Regions from separate parts of the Homo sapiens genome. Here all the other regions are linked to region 1. The links come from fine-mapping of genetic effects on gene expression. A gene starts in region 1. Each other region holds a variant in brackets. All regions are shown on one strand. Distances are between the middles of the regions.

Region 1 (8,176 bases):
TACCTAAGTTAAAAAGATACCAGCTTAACCGGGTGAATATACAAACCCACAAATTAGTAAGCTATGCAGATCAACTTCCTAAGACAATTCAGAAGGAAGAAAAAAACTAAGGTCTCAAAGATTATGAATTTGCAACTACAAGAACTGACTAACCAAATGAGGCCTTTTAAGAAAAGACAGGGCCTCCTTCTAATGACAAAAGGGCTGTTTGCTTCTACTGTAAAAAGCCTGGCCATTTCAAAAAAGATTGTAGAAAATTTAACAGCAGGACCAGTGAAAAACCAGGATCCCACATGATGAACAGGATTGCTCTGATGATCGAAGGGAGGTGTTCCTATTTCTACTAATGCCTTAGGAGAAATGGACATTGCCATAAATGAAGAACAGACACATGCCCTCAAAGACACTGGTGCCACTCTTTTCGTCCACTTTAAGTTGTCTCCTTCCTTGGAGTAATGGAACTGTACAAACGGTAGGGTTATCTCATCAGCCTATCACTGGATACAAGTCCAAGCCCTTAGAATCCCAGGGCCCTCATTCTTTTCTTCATTCCCCCACCTCTCAGACATCTCTTAGGCAGACATTTTGTGTTGGAACGTCACAATGCATGCTTTCCTTCTCCCAAAAGGAAGAAATGGATTTAGGTTTAGAATGGAAGGAGCAAATGGAAAAACTACAGAATGAGAAATTACTGAAATTATAAAAATACAGATCAAACAACTTTTTTTTCAACTGGCACTAATGACACGGATGGCTTAGGGCAAGCTTTGTCAGACCACTTATGGTCAGAGTCTTCCACCGACATTAGTAAAATATATTCAGCCACTTTCATTAAAGTGGAAGTAAACCTGATTAATCCTTTACCCAATATCAGACAATATCCTCTAAGGCCTGAAGCAAATGAAGGAATAAGATCCGTAACAAAAGACTATATTAAAAGGGGTCTAATTATTCCTTGCGCCAGCATGTAATACTCCAATCCTTCTTGTAAGGAAGCCGAATGGGAAGAGCTGGTATTCTGTACAAGATTTGAGAACCGTCATCAACACTGTGATCCCCAGACATCTGGTAGTACCAAAGCCCCATCCTCTTTCGGCAGCTGGAAGTGAGACACTGTGACTCATTTATGTAGTGCCTTCTTTAGTATTCCAGTGGACCTAGAGTCAGTATTTGTTTGCTTTTACTTGGGATGACTGCGAGCATATCTGGCCTATCAGGAAATATTGCTGATGAAACTGCTGCCTCCATCACAGCCCAACAAAAAGCTACTGACTCACTGGCTAAGGCTGCACTGGACGACTGCATTGCTTTCGATTATTAGCTGAGCAAGCAAGTCTATGTATGGTGGCAAATACCTCTTGATGTGCATAAACCCTTTCCACGAAGTAGAAACTCATATGGGAAAAAGTACAAGCCACTAGGCTACACTATTCTGAACAATTCTCCATTTGATTTTCTTCGTAATACTTTTAGTTGACTCCCTCGAATAGGTTCCGTTTTTCATTCTGGCATACACATTCTCTTTTTCATTGTAATCCTTATGTGCACCGTACTTGGTAACATTTTTGTTTTAATAGAGATGGAGTCTTTCTGTGTTGCCAGGTTGGTCTTGAACTATCAGGCTCAAGTGACCCTCCTGCCTTGGGCTCCCCAAATGCTGGGATTACACACAAGAACCACTGCCTGGCCAGCACTACAGTTCTACTATCGAAATTATTAATGCTATGCTATGTATCTCTGGCGGTTTTTTTTTTTTTTTTTTTGAGACAGGGTCTCACACTGTTGCCCAGGCTGGAGGGTAGTGGCCTGATCATGGCTCACTGTAGCCCCTACCTCCTGGGCTCAAGGAATCCTCCCACAGCAGGTGCCACCATACCCAGCTAAGTTTTTTGTATTTTTTTAGGGGAGAGAAAGCGTTTCGCCATATTGCCCAGACTGGTCTCCAACTCCTGGGCTCCAGCGATCCTCCTGCCTCGGCCTCCCAAAGTGCTGAGATGAAAGACATGCGCCCCACACTGGCCTCTGGATGTTTGTTACTCCTGAGAAAACTAAAATCATGGCACTCCAAAGACTAGAGACGATTCAACAGGCAAGAGCAGGGATGAAATGCACGCAGCGACTGAGGTCTGGCTTCGCGGCTCTGTGACCCCGGTTCAGCTTCTGAGCGCCTGGTTCCTTGGCGGGACGCCTCCTCCTTTCCCGCAAGACCAGACACGACTGTCTGGGAAGCAGCGTTTCTGGGGCGCACCTTGACACTTGGATTTGGATCAACAATGCTTTCAAGAAGAAAGACTTTTGATCAAAAGCGGGAAATGAGAAAGCGACTTTCCTCTGAAAAGTGCCTCCCAGTCCCGAGGCTGCGAGGCCCCCACGCCAGGCTGGCTCCCACGGAAGCCGGGCACCCACCCGGCCCGACCAAGCGCCACTCCGCCCCGTGGACGGGGCGTCCCACCCCGGGGACGCCCGCCCCACACCGCGTTTGCACCCCGGAGGCCCCTTGCCGCAGAGGCGGACGGCGCGCCTCTCCCGGGCCCCTGGGGTCCGCGCCTCCCTCGGGCAGACTCTTTCGACTCTGCTCGAGCCTCCGCTTCTTCCTGCGGGCGGACGCCCCGGACACAACGGGCCCCGCTGTTCACGCAGGGGCGCCCCGGCGGGGCGGGCAAAGACCCGGGGACGCGGTCCCGTCCCGAGACGCTCAGCTCCGGCCCACCGCTCGCAGCTCCCGCCCCGGGCGCAGGTCCCGACCCCACGGGCCGTCTCGGAGCCGCAGCGGCCGCTTCCCTGCACGTCCTCACGCCCCCCGCACGGACGCCGCCAGCCCCGCGCCTCAGTTTCCCCACTAGCAGGATGGAAAGACGGGCCCCGCCCCGAAGCGTAGCGGCGTCTCCGTGGTAGCCAGTGCCCAGAGAGTCCGCCGGTCCCACCGCCCCTTCAAAGGAGAACCCGGCCCACCGCCCGCCGCGGCGGCGACCGCGCAGCCCACTCGTCACGCGGCCCGCGGCGTCCAGCCCGGGCCGGCTCACCTCAGGCGGTCGCTGCCGCCCTCGCGCCTGCGCGCCCCTCGCCCCGCCCCTCTCCCCGCCCGCGTCCCGCGCACCGCAGGCCTCTGCCCCTCGCCCACCGCAGGACCCGCCCCGCGCACGCGCCGCACGTGCCACACGCACCCCACGCCCCTGCGCACGCGCAGGCCCCAAGTCGCGGCCAATGGGCGACGCGGCCGCAGATCCGCCCGGCCCCGCCCTGCCCTGTGAGTTCCTCCGGCCGGGCTGCGGGGCTCCGCTCAGTCCGGGAGCGCAGCTGGGCCGCGGCGCTCCGACCTCCGCTTTCCCACCGCCCGCAGCTGAAGCACATCCCGCAGCCCGGCGCGGACTCCGATCGCCGCAGTTGCCCTCTGGCGCCATGTCGCAGAACGGAGCGCCCGGGATGCAGGAGGAGAGCCTGCAGGGTGAGGCGGAGGAGGCGGCGCGGGAGCCGAGGGGGCGCGGGGGGGAAGCCTGGGGAAGGCCAAGAGGGCGCCAAGGGGAGGTTGCCGGGGAGGCCTAGGGGGCATCGCGGGCCGGGCGAGGCTGCGCCATCCTCCCCTTCCGTACCCACCCCTCCTGCGGGCATGCGGAGCCCGGGGCGTGGGGACCCCGCGTACTGCCCGGGGTTCGCGGCCTCGCCACTCGGGCGGGGGTTGGCTTGGACCCGGGTCGGACCGCACGGGAAAGCCCCGATTCTCCAGCTCCGCGCGAGCTAGAATTCCACCTGGAGGTGAATCTGCGTCTCGCAGTTGGACCGAACAGCCTCAAAGTCCACGTTGCCCTCCGCGGTCTGTAGTTCAGACCAGTATTGGTTTTAATGACCAAACACCAAGGCGTGGCAAGTGGCCTGTTATGAGCTTTAATTTTGTTATTAATGTTTATATCCATGGTGACTGTTAGGATTTCCTCAAGGGTGAACGCGGAGATGGGAGGGGGTTACAGCGTTTTTAAAATATGGCATTAAATGGGCATGTTCCAATTTCACTAGAGGGTCGTTCCAAAACAAAGCTTTAAATGACTTACGGGTTAAGAAAACACAAGCAAAAGGACGCTGCCCGTGCAGCACTCAGTCGTTACAGCCTGCCTAATGCCCGAGTAGAGGCTCGCTGTGTGCCCTTGGCTAGATTCGCAAGACCATCCGTTCACGCAGCGGGAAACGCAGGCCCGGGGTGCAGGACTTGCCCCACGCACAGCCGGGTGGCGTGGAGACCCACCCCACCCGGTGGGTCCGCGTCAGAGTCCAGACGAGCCTTTGCTCAGGGAAGCGGGCACTGAAGCCGCCTTCCCAGGGTCCCTAGGGCCAAAGCCTCGGAGGAGGGACCTGGTGGCAGCTGACCTTTGTGTTCTTTGAAGCCAGAGTTTACTAAGCAAAATTAGCATGTAAATAAGCTTGGGAAAGGACTGCTGAAACCTCTGACAGTGAACTTTTAATCTTCATTGAGAGTTTTTAAAACCATATATTCACATAAATTTAGTGAGTTGCTAATTTTATTACAAAAAAAAAGATTTTACTAGGCAGGACTTAGTTACCGTAATATATTGAATAATATATATATATACATATGAACACTACAAGCTTTTTTTTTTTACCTTTTTTTTTTTTTAAGAGACGGGGTCTCACTGTGTTGCCCAGGCTGGTCTGAACTGGGCTCAAGCGATCCTCCCGCCTCGGCCTCCCAAAGTGCTGGGATTATAGGCCTGAGCCACCAGGCGCGCCTGGCCTAAAACCATATTCTTTAAAATCCTGTAATTCGGATTTTTCCTCTTGAAATTTAAACATTGGCTAATTACTATTTTGAAATAGATTAAGAGGTGTTTTCCTATCTTTTGTCATAAAATAAAGTCCAAGGGATGTTTTTATAAACTCTTTGCCATAAAATCACCCATTTTCCGGTTGTGAAGCCGCGTTACTCCTGACATTGTGCGTTTCACTGTCCGGCTGGGATCTGGGCGCTGGGAGGTGGAGGGGGCTCCGGGGGGCTCGGTCCTCTCTCCAATATGTAACTTACACAGGCTGCTGAGTCATTGGCAGTGCAAGGCGGCCAGCGCCGGAGTTACGAGATTTTTGTTTTTCTGTTTTGTTTATTCTATAAAAAGATAGTTACCCGCGGGGTGGATCCCATGTAGGCGATTCCTTGGGCCGCCCTGAGTGTCCGCGCGGCAGGACGGGGCCACTGTGGGCTCGGCGTGGGCGGGGTTGGCCGGTCCCGCGGGCTCCAGCTGCCTGCAAATCCGGGACGGAGCGGTGGCTCAGGCAGCGCTCACCTCTGCCTGTCCGATTTCACTGCCCCTTGTTGACCTCGGAACAGAGAACAATGGGAGCCTTGCAGCCAGACCCACGGATGGAAGCAGCAAGCACTCTCTCCTCTGAGTGTACCCTCTGGGGCCAACTGCTTTTCCTAAAGAGTTAATGGCAAAATGGGCTGATTCTGTTCCTTTCTATCTCTTGATCATTCTAGCTAAAGTTGTTGACTCGCAGGATGCTCGTATTTGTCCTTTTCCTTTTTTTTACAAGCCCAGTCTTACTCCCCCAGGCTGGAGTGCAGTAGCACAATCATTATAGCTCACTGTAGCCATGAACTTGGCCCTTTTCTCCTAGACATGTCACTGCTAACATGCAGGAGAGGTAGGATTCTGTGACGAGACCGTGTCACGGTGGCGGGGGCATCACTTCCTTGAAGGACCCACTGTCTTCACCAGGAGGGCATCAGTTCAGTAAAGTGCATGCCCATTTACTCTGGAGGGCCGTGTTTAATAATCCAAGCCCTCACCTCTTCACCCACTGCTGTGTCTGCAACTGGCAGATGGTTCTCTCTCTTGTCAGAGGCAACTCACCATGGGCAAAGTTGTATGAGGGGAAAAGATGTTTTCTACTTATTTTGGAGTGGAGTTGTAGCATTGTGTGCTTTGAGACCTGAAGGGGTTGCAGACATCGAGATTCTCGTCCAAGACTTGCATTTCATAGATGGTCACAATGAGGTTCTAGAGGTGGAGTGAAAGATAAGGCTGGCAACAACACTTAAGGAGAAGCCAAGGTCTCTGCATGAGGCAGCAGTGGGATACCTGGAGCCCAGATGCCTGAGGCTGCGTGCAATAGGCCCTGGAGGGTCCTGGAGGAGAGGAGGCCAGAGGTCCTGGAGGCAACAGGAAGGTGGAGGGAAACGAGCCCCGTTGGAAGCCAGGGACCTGATTTACCTACCCAGCTGACTTGATACTTGAAATCTTTTGTCAGGCGGGTCTCTTTTGTTCTCTCCCCACTAACCTGAGAAGCTTTAAAGGTAAAACAGCAATTTCTTAGAGCCCACCTCCCCTGGGGAAGAAGCCCTTTGTATGGTTTTGGGGTGCTAGTTCCCTCGGGGGTTCACAGCTCCTCTGCTTCAGGTTTTTTTTCTGGGATGCTGCCTCCCTCTGTTCTGACATTTATCCCAGAGCTTTTTCAATCTATTTGCCTGGATTCCACCCCAGCATCCCAAATAGTCACTTTCAGAGTGGGCTGAGGCTAGGCTTTTGGAGAACAATGAAAAAACACCACAGGTGATTCTCCCTTCATAGCCAGAGTTGAGGTTGTCACCCCAGGTTAGGGCATAGGGTGGCCTTGAGAACTTGGCCCTGTGTTTACTCCACGTGGGGCTCGTGGCTGTGGCCCATGAATCCATGTTGAGGAATGGGACCCAGGGAGTTGCCCTGGGACATACAGAGGGCAGTGAATCGAAGGGATTCCCTGGAGTCTGTCACTGGAGGGAGAACTGCTTTGGGCACCTAGAAAAGCTGGATGTCAGATGATTTTTTTTTTTTTTTTTTACACAAAGTGAGAATAAGAAATGGATTAAGAACTCTTGTTGGACTGTATTTTGTCTCTGAGGCAGACCTATCAGTTTTCTTTTTGTACTGTGATATAAATATTTATAGTCTAGGCTTTTCAAAATCTCATCTACCTTGATATAGGAGGGAGGTAAGATTTACTGGCTGTGTGTCTTGTTAGCAATGTAAATTATAAGTGAGTGAGGAGGGGGAGGAACATGAGAGGGACGCGAAATGAGATTAGGAAGGAGGGCTTTTCTTGCAGCAGCAACAGCAGCACCTTTCCGTCTGGGGCCTAATTATACTACAGTGATTTGAAGTGTAAACTGCTTGTGATTATGAGCAAGTTTTCTAAGGTTATTAAGCAACCTTACTGTAAGCCCATCTTTCTTTGAAAAGGTGAACGATCCGAGTGGAGAACTGTAACACGTGAGTAGATACACAGCACGCTCCATTCTCCAGGAAGTGCCTTCCTTTCCTACGCGGTTGCTGTGGGTTAATAATAAAACTCCTGTCCCTTAGTAAATCATTCCTGGGAATACAGCTTTTGGGCCCAAAGTCATTAGCCATGGACAATCTGGAGTGAGTTTTTTTTCCTTGTTTCCTGGATTTTTAGGTCCTTTCTGGGGTGATGTTTAAAAAGCACTGCTTTGGTTCGAATGTGTTCCTCCATGTTGCCAGTGGGATGGTAGTAAAAGGTGGGCCTTTAAGAGGTGGCTCGGCCATAGGGGCTCCTCTCTAGTGAATGGGATTAGTGCTCTAAGGGGCTGGATGGAGGGAGGTGGGTCCCTCTGTAGCCTCATTGAAGGGATGAGGCAGGAAGGCCCTCAGCCGACACCAGATGTTGGTGCGTGGATCTTGGACTTCCCAGCCTCCAGAACAGAGATCAGTTTCTGTTCGTAAATCACTAAGTCTGTGGGATTCTGTTGCAGTAGCGCAGAGGATGACAGAGATACACTTGTCTCTCCTTCATCTTCCTCTCCCTGTTGTCTTCAGCCTGCCCCTTGTGTGATAGATTACAGTATGTGTTTGGTCTTGACCCTACCTACTTCCTGGTGCAGAGCACCTAAACCCCTGGGGCTTCCTGAGCAGTGTCTTTTTTTTTTGTTTGAGACACAGAGTTTCGCTATTGTTGCCCAGGCTGGGGGGCAGTGGCATGATCTCGGCTCACTGCAACCTCCCCCTCTCAGGTTCAAGGGATTCTTCTGCCTCAGCTTCCCGAGTAGCTGGGATTACAGGCGCCCACCACGCCCAGCTAATTTTGTATTTTTAGTAGAGACGGGGTTTCACCATGTTGGTCAGGCTGGTCTCTGACTCCTGACCTCAGATGATCTGCCCGCCTCGGCCTCCCA
Region 2 (8,176 bases), 85 kb after region 1:
TCTCAGCCCTGGTAGAGCTTACCTTTCAGTGGGGGAGACAGACAATAAGGAAATAAATACATAATAAGTCGGAGCTGGAGAGAAAAATCAGGGAAGAAGGAAATGTGTATGGGGAGAGTTGGAGTCTTGCACGGGGTGACTGGAGAAGACTCAAGGATAAAGAGCAAACCATGCAGACGTCTAGGAAAGCTTGGCCAGGAAGGGGAGACCACCAAGTGCCAGGACAGGAAGGAGGGCCATGCCTGGCATGGGCAGGAGGCAGCCAGAAGCTGCGTGGGTGCAGAGTGAGTGGAGGGGAGGCCAGGGGTTGGAGTCAAGGCAGGGAGGTAAGTGGAGGAGGATGGACAGTGGGCAGGCCATTTAGGGGACTTGGACTCTGAATGAGATGGGCTCATGAACAGAAGACGATCGTGATGGACTTGGGCTTTTGGATGCTCTGCTGAGAATAGCTTGTGGGGACCCAAAGAGGGGAAGCAGGGAGACCAATCAGGTGGCCAGCTGGGCTGACCAGGCATGGGGATGAGGATAGAGTGGTGAACATGGGGTGGGGTGGTGAGAACCAGTCAGATTTCAGAGAAAAGTGCTTCGACAGCAGAGCCCCTGGGATTTGCTGATGGAAAAGATGCGGTGTGAGAGAAAGCAGGGACTTAGGAATGCCTGCTCTCGGGTGGTCTGAGCACCTGGAAGGATGGAGTTTCTGCAGCAGAAGGCACAGCTGGGTGGGGGCGGTGCAGCCCGACCAGAGGTTCGCTGTCAACACATAGTGCTGTTGCACAGACAGGCTGGGAGCACACAGGGAAGTCAGAGCCAGAGCATCAAGGTGAGAGCATTTAGAGGTCATTTCAAGTCAGGAAACTGGGTGAGGTCACCTCAGGAGGGAGGACAGATGGGGGACAGGACCAAGGACAGAGCCCTGAAGGGGTGAGGACGTGGAGGATGAGTGAGCAGCCTGCGAGGTGGGCTCCTGGAGAACCCATCTCCAGGATCCACTGAAGACAGGAGGGAGTGGCTGCTCTGTGATGCTATGTGATGAGTATACAGGAGTGACCATTTGGTTGTAGGGACTGGGAGGCCATTACTGACTTGGACGGAGCGGTGGCTATGGAATGGACTCAGATCACAAGTTTGCAGAGGGCTCTGGGGACAGTGGCAGGAGAGGAACTAGAGGCAGTGAATACCTACTTCTCTGTTGAGGAGAAGAAGAGCAGAAAAATGGGGCTGTAATCTTGTTTTTAAAATGTAGATTTAGCCTATCTGCCCAGGAAGACACTTGAAAACCTGAATTAATGACCAGATCTCTTTTATTTGTTAACTTAAAAACCTGACAATTTATAAATTTAGAAAAAGAGGAACTTTATTTCTTATAAATGGTTACAGCCAGCAAGGTGGCCATCCCCCAGGCCAAGATGGGAGATGGCTCTTCGTAGGAGGAGGAGTTGGGGCAGGAGCTCTATGCTGAACGGGTTGGCTAAACATACATAGACAACAGGCTTTGGGAGGAGCTATGAATACTCAGGAAGGGGCTCCTGACACGTGTATTATGTAACATAGGACCCAATCTCACTCTGTCGGGGAGACTAAACATTTGAATATATTACGACTGTAATCCCAGCACTTTGGGAGGCCAAGTCTGGCAGGTTACCTGAGGTCAGGAGTTCGAGATCAGCCTGGCTAACATGGCGAAACCCCCTGTCTACTAAAAATACAAAAATTAGCTGGGCGTGGTGGCGCCCGTATGTCTGTAGTCCTAGCTACTTGGGAGGCTGAGACAGGAGAATCCCTCCAACCTGGGAAGCAGAGGTTGCAGTGAGCCGAGATCGTGCCGTTACACTCCAGCCTGGGCGACAGAGCGAGACTCCGTCTCTAAATAAATAAATAAATAAATAAATAAGTAAATTAGGACTAGGCCCTGTACCTCAAGAGGTCTTTTCAGGACAGGAAGGCATGCAGATGTGCAACCTCTGTAAACCGGCCAGAACCAGTCCAAGGTCGGTGGTTTCTTATCAGGAGACAGTTACAGTCTTCTGTCCAATGAAAGCTGTAGTTACGGCTGCTGGAGCAGGGCTGGGGGTCACTTAGTGGCTGGTGGAGCTGCAGTTGCTTAATGTTGCTCCTATCAAGGCCAGTGCTTATTTAGCTGCTGGAGGGAAGGAAAACCCAACAGCAGTGGGAACGACGTTTTCTCTGTAAGTGTGCGGTGCGTGGCTTCACCCTCCCCCCGCACGGCCTTAGGCCCTGTTTATGATTTGGCATCTTACTGCCACAGAGTCCGTTCTGTCAGTCTTATGGTCTCTAGTTTAACGTTAACGCTGGTCTGTTGTGTCCAAACCACAAAAGGGCGGGGGTATCAGGAGGCCTGTCTGACCTCCCATCCCCCATTATAGCCTCAGTGTTGAGGTTTTCCTGGGGCCCCCCCTGGCCACAGGGGTGTTCGTTCAGCCAGTGGGGGATGTAGGATTTTATTCTTAGTTCCTATGTAACTGCTTTAATGTGTGTTAAATATGTCTTTTGAAGTGATGACAAGATAATTAGTTTTTGTTTAGAATGTATTTTCTGGTTCATTAGCTCCCATTAAATTAAACTAAAAACAAGATATAGCCACAAAAGTAACATATTCCTGAGACTGGGGGGCTGCCTTCCCTGCGTCCCACTGTGCATCAGCTGACCAGCAAGAGATTTTTAACTATTTTTTAAAAAGAGATTTTTAACTATTCTTCTTATGATGCTAAAAACTTAAAATATTTGGCTAAACCACAATGACTTTTGCGCCAACCTAATAGCTCAATGAATTTCTCTGTTTGGATTCTAATTGGTGTTTACAAGTTTCTGAGTATTGACAGCAATTTTATTTTTTAAAATTGTTTTTCAGATCTCACAGCTGAATTGAAAATGCCTGGTGTGTATTAGAATCTAGCCTATTGTAATCATAGAAGGCAGTACTGTTCAGTAACTAAAAGGCATGAGCTACTACTGATACAAACAGCAGTCCCAAATGAGTCCCCGAAATATTACGAAAATGAAAGGAGCCAGACACGGAGGCGTGCAAGCTGCATGCGCCCCTTTATTTTATCATACTTAGTCTCATGTGTCAATGTAGCGAGGGTATAGTATGTAGTTATTTCATCAGAACTAAGCCAAGTATTGCCACGAGGGTGTTTCGTGGATGTGGTTAACACCCACAGGCAGTTGACTTTGAGAAAAGGAGATTACCCTTGATAATATGAGTGAGCCTCATCCAATCAATCAAAGGCCTTCAGAACAAATACTGAGGTTTCTTGGAGAACAAATTCTGCCTCCAGGCTGCTGTATCAGCCCTTGCCTGAGCTAGCCTGCCGGCCTGCCCTGCTCACCCTGTGCACCCTCTGTTTTTGAACTTGTCAGCCTCCACAATTGTGTGAGTGAGTTCCTGAAAATAAAGCTCATTCCATACACGGTTTCTCTGAAGAATCCTGAAGTTCTAGAACAGGTGAGACTGCTCTACAGTGATTTTAAAAATGGCACAGGGGCTGGGCGTGGTGGCTCACGCCTGTAATCCCAGCACTTTGGGAGGCCGAGGTGGGCAGATCACAAGGTCAGGAGTTTGAGACCAGCCTGACCAACATGGTGAAACCCCATCTCTACTAAAAACACAAAAATTAGCCAGGTGTGGTGGCGCACGCCTGTAATCCCAGCTACTCAGGAGGCTGAGGCAGGAGAATTGCTTTAACCTGGGAGGCGGAGG[T/A]TGCAGTGAGCCGAGATCGCGCCACTGCACTCCAGCCTGGTGACAGAGCAAGACTCCATCTCAAAAAAAACGGCATGGGGCACGAGTGTGGGGATTGACTGGAGAGGGTGGGGGATGGACTGGAGAGAGTGGGAAAGAACTCCCTGGGTTGATGGAAGTGTTCTGCATCCTGATGGCCGCAGCTGTTAATGCAGCACGAATGGTTGTCAAGACTCATTGAAAAAGACACTTAAAGTGGACCCATTTTATTGTATGTGAATGATACCTCAATAAAACAGATTTTTTTAAAGGATTGTTTTATTTTAATGGCTGATCTATGTAATCACGGAGGCCAGTATGTACGGACAACGGGGGAGCTTTTATTTTTTGGTATCTTCCTCCTTGGACAAAGTCTTGAAGATCTCCTCCTTCTTGACTTGGAGGCGCTCTTCACGGCGCTTGCGTGCTTCCTTGGTCTTAGACCTGCGAGCCTCAGCCTAGTCAGCCAGGAGCTTCTTGCAGGCCTTGTCTGCCTTCAGCCTGTGGCTGTGTTCCATGAGAATCCGCTTGTTCGTGAACATATTCCCCTTCACCTTCAGGTACAGGCTGTGATACATACGGCGATCAGGCTTCTTCGATTCACGGTATCTTCTGAGCAGCCAGCACGGAATCCTCATTCTCCTCATCCACGTGACCTCCTCTGGCATTCGGGCATTGGCTGTACCCTTTTGCTTACCTATGCCTATGTGCCTGCCCTTCCGGCGGGCCAAGGTGCTTTTCCGGCATCGAGCTGGAATGGACAGTCACTGGCTTGGGGATGATCAGCCCATCTTTGATCAGCTTCCAGATCTGCTGACGGGAGTTGGCATTAGCGAGTTCATTGGTCTCCTTGGGGTCCAGCCAGACCTTCTTCTTCCCACAGCGGAGGACACTAGCAGCGAGCCTCTTCTGAAGCCTGAGCGTGCTCATGGCTGCGGCCACAGCAGCAAAAGGAAAGAGCTCAAATGAATTATTTTAAAGTCTAACTTACCATAAATTTTCTTCAAGTCTATGAAGGACTTTATATCTTAAGAGTCTGCAAATCACACTTCCCCCAAATACCTTTATTTTAAAATATGTTTTATTTAATTTTCTTTTTTTAAATTATTATTATTATTTTACAGAGTCTCGCTCTGTTGCCAGGCTGGAGTGCAATGGCGTGATCTCAGCTCACTGCAACCTCCGACTCCTTGCTTTAAGCAATTCTCCTGCCTCAGCCTCCAGAGTAGCTGGGAACTACAGATGTGCACCACCACGCTCAGCTGATTTTTGTATTTTTAGTAGAGATAGGGTTTCACCATGTTGGCCAGGATGGTCTCTATCTCCTGACCTCGTGATCCACCCTTCTCAGCCTCCCAAAGTGCTGGGATTACAGGCGTGAGCCACCGGCCCGGCCTTTAATTTTTATTTTTTTTGAGACGAAGTCTCGCTCCGTCGCCCAGGCTGGAGTGCAGTGGCGCGATCTTGGCTCACTGCAACCTCTGCCTCTCAGGTTCAAGGGATTCTTCTGCCTCAGCCTCCCAAGCAGCTGGGATTACAGGTGTGTGTCACCACGTCCAGGTAATTTTTGTATTTTCATTAGAGACAGGGTTTTACCATGTTGGCCAGGCTGGTCTCAAACTCCTGATCTCAAGTGATCCATCTACCTCGGCCTCCCAAAGTGCTGGGATTACAGGCGTGAGCCACCGCACCTAGCCTAAAATAATTTTGATTTATTTAGATTTCAACTACTAAATATTATTTGAAAATACCAAATGTGGATTATTTTCAATTTCAGACTTAGTAACAATCTCAGTGTTATCATAGATGTAGCCTATTGGTAGGATGTGCAATCTTTCCATGGAAAACAAACCACATTTAGAAGCTTGCTAATAGGAGGCGGAGGCACCCTGTCTGCCCGGCTTGTGGGCTGGCTGGAAGAGCAATGGCAGGAGGACCTGCACTGAGACTCTGTGATTAGAGGGGCACGTGCTGGTTTGTGTCTCTGACTTTTGACACATGGCTGCCTCGTACTGCTGGAGCCCGGCAAGGCGTTAGATGTCATCCCATCATTCTTCTTTCCTCCTGCCAGAAAAGATCCGATCCTCATATTTTTGTCACATGCTGAAGGAAGGGAAGAAAGATGGGAAGAAATGAAGGAACAGAAAAAAGAAAGGGAGGTAGGAAGAGAGGGATGGACGGAAGGATGTGACTAGCCCTGTGTTGTGAATTGAGAAGGAAAACCCCACAGTCACCTGCTCCTGTCTCCTGGGCCTTTCTTCTCCGGCCTGGGGGCATTTGCCTGTCCCCTTTCTTCCTCTGCACTCCTTCCTTGTTTCAAACAAAAAAAAAATCTCTACACGCTGTATTGAATGTGGTGGAGAGAACATCGGTGTTCCAGGAACAAGAGAGATGTGTGCATGTGTGTGGTCTGCAGAATAATGACCCTCCAAATGTCCATGCCCCAATCCCCAGAGCCAACTTGTGGCTATGTTACGTTGCATGGCTAAAGGGACTTTGCAGATGGCCTTAAAGTTCCAGGATTTAACCTCGGCAGATTATCCTGGATCATCCTTGCGGGCCTAATCTAATCGTGTGAGCATTTCAAAGCGAGAACTTTCTCCAGCTGCAGTCAGAGATTCAGCAGAAAGGAGAGTCAGAGCGCATCAGAGCACGAGAGGGACCTGGCCGGCGGGTGGTGGAGGGGTGCGTGAAGGGCATGAGCAGGAACCTGGGCCGCCTCGGGGAGCCAAGACTAGCCCCTGACTGAGAGCCGGCATGAAGATGGGAATCTGACCAAACGAACAGCATTCAGACCACAGCCTGGAAGAGTCTGGGAGGAGATTCAGTCCGAGAGCCTCCAGAAAGGGGCGTGGGCCTGCTGTCACCTTGATTTCAGGCTCCCACCACCCTAAGCAGAAGACCAGTCAGGCAAAACTGCCCGGCCTTCTGACCTGAGGAACTGTGAGAGAATAAATAGGTGTTGTAAGCCGTTAAGATTGCGGTAATGTGTTACAGCAGGGAAAGAAAGCAAGTACGTGTACATGCAGAAATACGCGGGCTTTCATAGACTCACTCATCTTGCTGTCCCCTGCTGTCCTTGAGCCTCGGTGTCTTGTTCAGTCATTGATTCACGTTGACATGCTGACACCATAGCCGTGTATGAGCAGTCCACTACTAATTGCCCCTGCTTTTATTCAGCAGGGGCCACCTTGTGAGCTGCTGGCAGGTGCAGGTATGAAGAGGGGTCGACTGTGCTCTTAGCGGCACCCTGGACACAGCCCAAGTGTCCAGAATGGCACTGAGCACTTCACCTGCTCCTCATTCAGCGCTTACAAAGCTCTACGAGCTGAGTATTGTCATCCTGCTTTTTCAGATGATGAAACTGGGGCATAGAGGGATTCGATAATTTGCTTAAGGCTTCACAATCACCAAGAATCGAAGTCCAGTTTAAGGTAAGTTCTAACCTTGAGGCTGGGGCTTGTGACCTCGAGTCTGGATGTTATTAAACACGGCGCAGTCCTGGGGCTTTTATGCTTCCGACTCCACCGTCCATGGCGTGGGGAGGCTGCAGGGGAGCCTCAGCACTGGCTCTGCCTGGCAAGAAGGACACCCTCATGCAGTGACCTGGAAACTGAACCCTCTGGTCACTGCCTCCCGGGATCGTCGTGCGTGGGGACAAGAGGATGGTGGTGGGGCAGGATTTTCCACGCAGCTGCTGTGGCTGATTGCTTCGCCGGTGCTGCGGGGAACACACAGTGGATCCTGTGCCGTGGCTGGAGGGGCCGCTCCTGACGCCCCATCCTTGACCTTTGCAGATTGGCCAGGGGAGCACGTCATGTGAACTCCTTAGCCCTTCCTCCCAATAGCTCTCTCTTTCAAGGATTTCCTGTCTTCTTCTCCACATGCGTGGCTGCTGTAGGCTCTGCTCCCCTCGGATTTCTCCCAGTTGCCCTTGGAGCAGCCTCCCGGCAGTTTCTACCGAGGCCCTCTCTCTGGTTCCCAGCTTCCCTCCAAGCCCAGCCACCAGGAAGGAATCCCACCTTCCTGGAGTTTGGTGTTCTTGTCTTCTATGCAGAAGGTTAAGCCCAGAGTGCCTGGCGGCATGGCCCTTGGACCTCACCTTGCAATGGCAGAGGCAGAGGCATGCATTCCTGAGGTCCTTTCCCAGATAGCTGGAGGGGAGTAGAATTGTGGGGAACCGAACCCTGTCCCCTTTTCTTTCCCCGGACTCCTCCCATTGGGTGGAGCAGCTCCTTTTCTTCTGGGCGTGGCCCTTCGCACGGAACCAGGGGACACACTCTCAAAGCCTTCACTGTTCAGTTTAAGATAACGAGCCGAAGTACAGGTGTAAGACAGAAAAATGTGGAAGGCTCCTTGCCCTGTGTGCCAGCTCTCTGTCCCTGAGTCTCTGGGTTGGATGTCTGAGCAGATGTCTGAGAGGACAGCTAGAGGGGG
Region 3 (8,176 bases), 110 kb after region 1:
TGACAGTCTTTGAAAGAAAGAGAAAAATCAAACAAAGAGAATGCCCGTTTCATTCACCTCATAAGAAACAGGTAGGAAAAAAAAATGCTCATTTCTCCTGAGTTTGGACACAAAATCTTCCTCCTGGGTTGGCCACTAGGGAACAAAGTTCTGGTCTCTGAGAAATGCTATTAAAATATTCCGTGACTATTTCATTTTAAATGTTAATCTGGTTTCCACTCGAGTTGTGAAGAAGAAAGTGGGAGATTCTGTCGCGATTCAGTCTTCAAAAAGGTTTTGTGATGTTAGGTTTAGAGCTTTGCTTATTGATGTCACCAAATCCGGCCAGTAAAATTAAGAGAAAAGAAGTAGGTTTGCCAAATCACGGGTGCAATTGCAGATGTGTTGTTGGTTACACGGACACCTCCACCGTTTCCATGGGTCCCTCAACTTTGCATTTCTGGAGCAGGGCTGGGCATGTGTAGCATTGCTGAGCCTCCCAGGAAGAAGCCAGGAGGTGAGTGTGCACCTCCTCGGGGGCTGCCCTCCAAACCCTGGGCCCTCCCACCCCCAGCCAGGGAAGCATCGGCTGGGTGAGTGTGGAGATGCCTCTCTAAGCTCCAGCCCCCAGAATGGAGTCTAAGGGTGGAGGGGTCTCAGCTGGGGGGTAGGAGTTTGTTTCCGTGGAATCTTCCCCTCGGAAGAGCAGGTGTCAGGATGCAGGAATGAGGGTCTCCCAGATGGGCCACGGGGACCAGTTTCCTGGGAGAAGTTGCACGGGGTCCGGTTCCAGCGCCCTGAGGGAAACAAAGCCATTTTCTAGCACAGAGGAAAGAGACACTGAGGCATTTTCCTTCTGGGGTGGGCGTGGTTGGGCCACTCTGCTTTCTCCTGGTGGATTTGGTCAGAGCCTCTGAGGTCTCCCTGCATGGCACTGGGCCTGGCCTGAGCACCATGTCCTTGGCCTCAGCCTGTCCTTCCCGGCCTCCCAGGAATTCCCCCCAAGCTCCGAGGTAGACCAGATACACGTTTGTTGAATTAAAGAATTAACGTTGGCCGGGCACGGTGGCTCACGCCTGTAATCCCAGCACTTTGGGAGGCCGAGGCTGGTGGATGGCCTGAGCTCAGGAGTTCGTGAACAGCTAGGGTAACACGGTGAAACCCTGTCTCTACTAAAGTACAAAAAATTAGCTGGGCATGGCAGCATGTGTCTGTAGTCCCAGCTATTCAGGAGGCTGAGGCAGGAGAATCGCTTGAACCCAGGAGGCGGAGATGGCAGTGAGCTGAGATTGCGCCACTGCACTTCAGCCTGGGTGACAGAGCAAGACTCTGTCTTAAAAAAAAAAAAAGTAGAATTAATGTCTGCTCTGAATTCCAGAGCTCCAGGAAGCTCTGATTATAGAAACAGGCCTCCTTGTTTATGGGGGTCCCCTACTGAGGAGACTCAAAGCCTGCGGCATCCTCTGACTTTGAAGGGGCTCCTGTAGGGAGTGGTTGCAGGGTGCAGGTGCGGACATGCCAGGCTGTGCAGGGGAAAGTGGCCAGGTGCTGTCCAGAACTAGCTCCAGCGCCTCAGGCCTCCGCTCAGTGCTGCCACAACCCGGGAATGAGGGCGTCCCCACAGCGCCCAGGAGCAGAGTCCACCCCTTCCAAAGCCAGCGTCCAGGGTTGCTGCGTGACCCGCTTTCCCCCCATGCCGGTCACACTCGGTACCACTGTTGACTCAGGAAACAGCTCCCTAGCAGGGGTGGAACCTGGAGTTGGGCTCCCTAGCCACAGCCACTTGAGGTTGTTCTGTGAGGGAGCTGGCAAGCCTGGGCTGCCCTGCTCCTGCCTGCTCGGAGTGCAGCACGAGGACGAGCCGGGACCTCTCCCCCGTGTGGTTAGTAAGAGTGGATGTGCAGCTCCAGGGAGTGAGCAGCAGGCTCTTTGGTTTCATGGAATCACGGACCAGCGCTGCCTCACTGAGGTCCCCGGGAGGGCATGACAGCCTGGGAACCTCTGGAGGATGGGATCCAGTTAGAGATCTTTTCCTCGTGAGGCTCAGCATTCGGGCAGCTCCTCTGTTGGATTAGGAGGGCCCTGACTTAGATCCCAGGCAGGGCAGGACCCGGGGACATCACAGGGTGCTTGAGGGAAGGGAGAGCCTGGGGTCTGGCTGAGTAGGAGGCGGGTTCGGCAGGCATGGTGACGCCTGGGCCTGTGAGGCCGCCCTGATGCACGGAGTGTTTGGGGCGGTGGCTGTGGCCATAGCACGAAGGAAGGAAGCACTAAGCCCAGAGCCCAGGGATGGGCACCGCTGAGGACCTGCAGGGACCCCCGTCCTTGAGGGGACTTGTCTACAGCAGTGGCACCCGGTGGCAGCAAGAGTGACAGTGGTGGATTCAGAAACCCACGCGGGCTCCTGGCATTTTGAGGGTGGGGTGGAGGTGGCGAGAGGGACTTCCTGGGAAGACATTATCTGGGAAACAAAAGGGAAGGGACCAGAATTATGTCCCAGGACACAGCACGCTGCCCTGTGTTCTCCTGGAGGGCCAGGGTGGGCCTCCACCTCTCTGGGGGTGCTCGTTCACAGAGGATCCCCTATGTAAGCCTCGGGTGAGTTGAGTTGGGGTCTGGCCAGGGCTCCCACTGATTGCCATTGTCTCCGCCTTCAGGGACCACAGAGACCCCCGGGCCTGCTCCGGGTTTGCCATGGGCTCTGGCTGCTGGGAATGGGGCCTGTGTGCCTGTGTCCCCGGCTCGGACTAAAGGCTCCCGCGTTGAAGTCAGGGGTTAATACCCTGCTCTTGATTCCAGAGCTGGAAAGACTCCACGTTCTCCTCTCTCTCTTGTCCCCTAGCTCCCTGTCATGGTGAGACCCCACTGGTCTGAGACAGCAGGGATTTCTGATTCTTCTGGTTACAGGTTGACGAACTCAGTTCCGACCTCTAGTCCCCGGGAGGACTTTCCAGAACCCTCTGTGCCACCAAGTTTCTCCTCTGGGTGTCCAGCATCCTGCCCTGAGGGTTGGCTCACGGCCCACTCCTGCTCCCGGCTGTGAGCCCTGGAGCCCCGGCGTCTCCCCAGAGCTTGGTACACCCAGCTGGTCAGAAAACCTTTGCAGGACCCAAGGGCAGGCCCTGCATGGACCCTGGGCCCAGGCTCCCGATTTCCTCTTGGTTGGACTCAGCCTGTGAGGGTGTCTGAAATCTGCAGCTGAGAATAGTGAGTGCCCCATGCTGTAGACACTCGAGACCCCTTGGTGCTGTGTAACCTCACAGTTCCTGCCACAAGGACGCTTCCAAGGAGCACGGAGTGTGACTCATTACATTTCACTGCATCTCTCAGTCACCTGATATTTTAAGTACACAGATTTCAAATAGGCTTCCAGGAACTTCTATCACTAGACCTGAAGATTCATTTGTCTTTATCTGGGAGCTCATTTTGTGTTCACTGTTTTAATACTTGTCATTTCAAACTAATATATCAGAGTCAAGCAGAGAATAATTTACTTGGAAAAATGAGACTCCATAGATAATATAAATAACAGTAAAAGAGTAATTTGGGTGCATTTGCAGGATATTTGAGGACTTGAATGGTGGTCTAGAATGGTACATGTTGTTTATTGTCACTAGTTTGCCAGGAAGGACATGTGATTCCACGAGTTGGAGGCATGGATGCTCTGGGCCCCGGGCCGCACCCTGTGACTTGCGGGCAGTGTGCTTCATGGGAAGGCGTGTGAGTAAGGGTGCTCTCTCGTTGGAAGCATCCTTGTCTCATCCCTAATCCTGCCATCTAGGCTGATAAGAAGTTAATGCCAGGAAAAGAAAATGTGTGTCTTTCGCCAACTCCGTCTGCTGGGTGGAGCTCCCATCTGTAATCCAGCCCCAGGCCAGATGGCTTCCCTCACCGCTGTATAACAGAAGCACACAATGTATACACAATGTATACACAATGTATAATCTGCATAAAAACCATGCATCTTCCCGGAGCACCGATCTTACTCCATGACAACTCACGGAAGCATTGTTTTCTATATTAAAATGAATAAGTATGTTATACATAGTGAAATATTGGCATTAAAAAAGAGTTAATAAATTTCGTAGGACGTTTTCTTTGTGTGGCTGGCAGGTCCAGGCCACATTCCAGATCCCTGGTGCAGCAAGCTCACTTGCCCAGAATCTGGGGAAAGCCCCGGCAGGTGTCATCCTGCCCAGCTTGGCCAATGGGCCCCGTAGTTACTCCCTGGGTGATCCTGGACGAGTTGCTCGGGTTGGAGAGCCTCCGTTTCCAGGCCGTGTTCCCTGGTGTGATCCCAGCAGGTGAGGGTGAAGGG[A/G]CCTGGTCCTGGGCAGGCTTGCCCCTGCCTGGCCCCTCAATCTCCCCTGGCTGGAGGGTGGCTTCAGCTTCAGCCATTCAGACCTTTTGATTTAAACCAACTTCTGTTGTTTATTCAAGACATGACAATCCGAAGGTTTTGAAGCTTTTGCCTGGGAATTGATCTGGGTTTTAGTCTTTGGGCTCATTTTTACCCTTTAAAGATGACAGCATGTGCCATGTCGGGGGAAGAAAGGGGGATATTGTTGGTGAGTTGAGCTGTGGAAAGTATTTGGCAAGACAGGTCCTGGGGACCCAAGGACCCCCACAGAGCTCACCTGCACTTGCCTCCGCTAGACATGTGCTTATTCAAGGGGAAGGCAGTGCTTTGAAAATGCTGCTTCTCAGATGAGTGAGAAACCATGGACAGGCGTGTGGGAAGGCCCCGCAGCCTGGCCCCGCCAAAGGCACTTTGTTGCCTGCCCCCCGTTCTTGTGTCCTCCCCACCTCCCTGCCGAAGGATTGGTGGGTGATGGCCTCATGTTTATCACCACAAATTAAATACACTTATTTTGGACAACATTAACATGTTCATCAACTCTGATTTTTAAAATATTTGTTAAATTAGCAGGAGTTCAATTTTACTCCTTAAATGGGCTGAAAGTCAGTATTGATTTATTTAGTTGGCTCAACATAATTGCAAAGTAAGGTCTTAAACACAGCTTATTAACACTTTTAATAGGATGCAAAAAACCCAACATTTCAACAGAGATAACATTCTAGCATAAAAATAAGAGCAATTATGAAGGCTTTAGGAGGTGAAAAGTCAACTCTACCTTATATGGATGATGCTGGAGATTTTATTAGTAAATGTGGGTTTACGTCATCTGAGATTACTCACCAACAACGTCATTCTTCCGAGCCCGGCTGAAGCTGCCCTCCATTTTCCTGGGAGACCAGCACCGCTGCAGCTTCATTTTTGACTTCCACACTGTGGAGTATTTGGGGAGCGTCCACCCCGCATCTGGGCAGGAAGGCGGAGTCCTCTCAAGTTTCTCCTCTTGCTGCTGGGATTGTGCAATCCTTGAAGTAGATTTGAAACAACCAATCCTCCAGATCTGGGACCTTCATTCCCAGGCTGGGAGAATGTGGCCCTGAGGTCAGAATCCAAGTTTTACCCCCAGGAGAGCTCTGTGAATAGAACCTTCTAGAACTTCCCACCAAGATGAAGTGTTCTAGGTCTCTACTGCCCAGTGCAGCAGCCACTAGACACACAGAGCTGCTGAGCACTGGCAATGTGGCTGGTGTGGCTGAAGAAGTGATTTTCAGATTTCATTTCTTTATAATTAATTTGAATTTAGGCCAGGCATGGTGACTCATGCCTGTAATTCCAGCACTTTGGGAGACTGAGGCGGGTAGATTACCTGAGGTCAGGAGTTTGAGACCAGCTTGGCCAACGTGGTGAAACCCTGTCTCTACTAAAAACACAAAATATTAGCCAGATGTGGTGGTGGGCACCTGTAATCTCAGCCACTTGGTAGGCTAAGGCAGGAGAATTGCTTGAACCTGGGAAGTGGAGGTTGTAGTGAGCCGAGATCGTGCCATTGCACTCCAACCTGGGCAGCAAGAGGAAAACTCTGTCTCAAAAAAAAAGAAATTTAAATGCAATAGGCCTGTGTGCTTGGGAAAGTGCACCTCTAGCAGATGGCTTAGAGCTCCTCTCTCTCTCTTTGTAGGGATGGGGCCTCTCTATGTTGCCAGGCTGGTCTTGAATTCCTGGCCTCAAGTGATCCTCCCACCTCGGTCTCTCAGAGTGCTGGGATTATAGGCATGAGCCACCATGCCCGGCCATCTCTCTCTCCCTACAGCTGGCCTACCCTTCTCTCTGCAGCAGTGGTCCAGGTCACCGTGGTGCATGCTGGGAGAACCCCGGAATCTGGGGAGGGGACATCCAGCCACCCCTGTGCATGCTGGGAGCATTGGGCTGCCTTGAAGGGCAGCGGGAGGCAGGTGGCTAGGTACGACCACCACCTCCGCGTTGGCGAGACCACCTTTCCTCAGACCTTCCCTTTGATTCTTCTTCACGTGAATCAGTTTCCCCTCATCTCCATTTAAGTAGATTTAGGATGAAATTTACGACGACTCTTATTATGAACCACTGGTGAATCATGACCCCGTTTGCCCTCAGCTTTTCAACAAACCTCTGCAATCTCTTCCCAAGGCCTGGACAGAGCAGTGGCAGCTCTCCCTCAGCAAGGACAAGACTTTCAACTCCTCCATGGGGAGTAAAACCCACCTACCAGGTTTTAAGACTCAAAGGCTGCTCCAAAGTCCTTTTGCTTGTATCAGTCTATTTTTTGTAAAAAAGTCCTTAGTTGAAGAGTCCACATAGGTTTCCCATGGGTAAAGAACCCTATTAATATGGTCAAATAGAGAGTTTTCTTTTTTCTTTTCTTTTTTTTTTTTTTTTTTTTTTTGAGACAGAGTCTTGCTCTGTCTCCCAGGCTGGAGTGCAGTGGCATGATCATGGCTCACTGCAACTTCCGCCTCCCAGGATCAGGCGATTCTCTTGCCTCAGCCACCTGAGCAGCTGGGATTGCAGGTGCCTACCATCACACCCAGCTAATTTTTGTGTTTTTAGTACAGATGGGTTTTTGCCATGTTGGCCAGGCTGGTCTTGAACTGCTGACCTCAAGTGATCCACCTGCCTCAGCCTCTCAATGTGCTGGGATTACAGGAGTAAGCCACTGCACCTGGCCAAATAGAGACTTTTCTAGAACAGGACCACAAACCACTCCGCTCTCCCTGGGCCTAGCTCCCCATCTCCCCACCCCCAGCCACTGGAAACCACCACTCTGCTTTCTTTCGCTATGAATTCAAGTACTCCAGTTTCCTTCCATGAGTAGCGTAATGCGGTATTTGTCCTTTCGTGACTGGCTTATTTCACGCACCACAATGTCTTCAGGTTCGTGCAGGTTGTAGCATGTGTCAGGATCTCCTTCTTTTTAAGGCTGAATGATATTCCATTGTCTGGAGAGACCACATTTGGTTCATCCAGTCACATCCATCAATGGGCTCGGTGGCTTCCACCTTCCGGCTGTTGTGAATGGTGCTGCAGTAAGCATGGGTGTGCAAAGATCTGTGTGAGACCCTCTACTTTCAGTTCTTTCAGGTATATACCCAGCAGTGGACTTTTTTTTTTCCTTTGAGACGGAGTTTTGCTCTTGTTGCCCAGGCTGGAGTGCAATGGCACAATCTTGGCTCACTGCAACGTCCGCCTTCCAGGTTAAAGTGATTCTCCTGTCTCAGCCTCCGGAGTAGCTGGGACTACAGGTGCATGCCACCGCACCTGGCTAAGCCAGGAGTGGATTTGCTGGATCATATGGAAATTCTGTTTTTAATTTTGTGAGGTACAGCTACACTATTTTCCACAGCAGCAGCACCGTCTTGCACCCCCACCGGCAGTGCGCAGGGCTCCAATTACTCTACATCCCTTCCAACACTCGAGGACAGAAAAGGCAAGAATGAATGCGAGGGTCAGCAAATCGTGTGGAGTCGCTTGGAATTTTTAATGAGCGTGGCTGTCTTGATCTGCTCTGCCCAGAAGCACTTTGCAATTACGGAATATGGGTAGTTAATTTGCTAATTTCTGTCTTCTTGGTAGTGGCCATCAAGATGTGAGGCGTATCTCAGTGTGGTTTTGATTTGCATTTCCTGGATGATTTGTGATGTTGAGCATCTTTCCATGGGCTTATTGGCCGTCTGTGTGTCTTCTTTGATGAAATGTCCATTCAAGTCTTTCACCCATATTTGAATTGGATTTTTTTTTATCGATCCTTCTTGAACTTCAAACCCACTGTAAAACTCACTCTGCAGCATGTGCACCTGCAGGAAATCAGAG

The links.
Region 2: its variant is fine-mapped to the expression of BNIP3 in whole blood (TOPMed, PIP above 0.99).
Region 3: its variant is fine-mapped to the expression of BNIP3 in whole blood (TOPMed, PIP above 0.99).

Annotation. Positions count from the first base shown.
Region 1 is chr10:131,977,030-131,985,205 of GRCh38, reverse strand. BNIP3 (BCL2 interacting protein 3) reads left to right here and starts at 3,283. Exons shown (of 6, transcript NM_004052.4): 1 at 3,283-3,445. The coding sequence starts at 3,400. RefSeq lists silencers at 2,613-2,732, 2,773-2,962, 3,013-3,312, 3,543-3,772 and an enhancer at 3,180-4,104.
Region 2 is chr10:131,891,608-131,899,783 of GRCh38, reverse strand. It overlaps the pseudogene LOC100134362. Among named protein-coding and RNA genes, the nearest start is that of PPP2R2D, 5.3 kb to the left of the region's middle. The variant T/A (reference allele first, on the strand shown) is at 3,722.
Region 3 is chr10:131,866,638-131,874,813 of GRCh38, reverse strand. It overlaps LOC105378565 (a long non-coding RNA gene), which reads left to right. Exons shown (of 2, transcript XR_946487.4): 1 at 1-71. Among named protein-coding and RNA genes, the nearest start is that of PPP2R2D, 30 kb to the left of the region's middle. The variant A/G (reference allele first, on the strand shown) is at 4,298.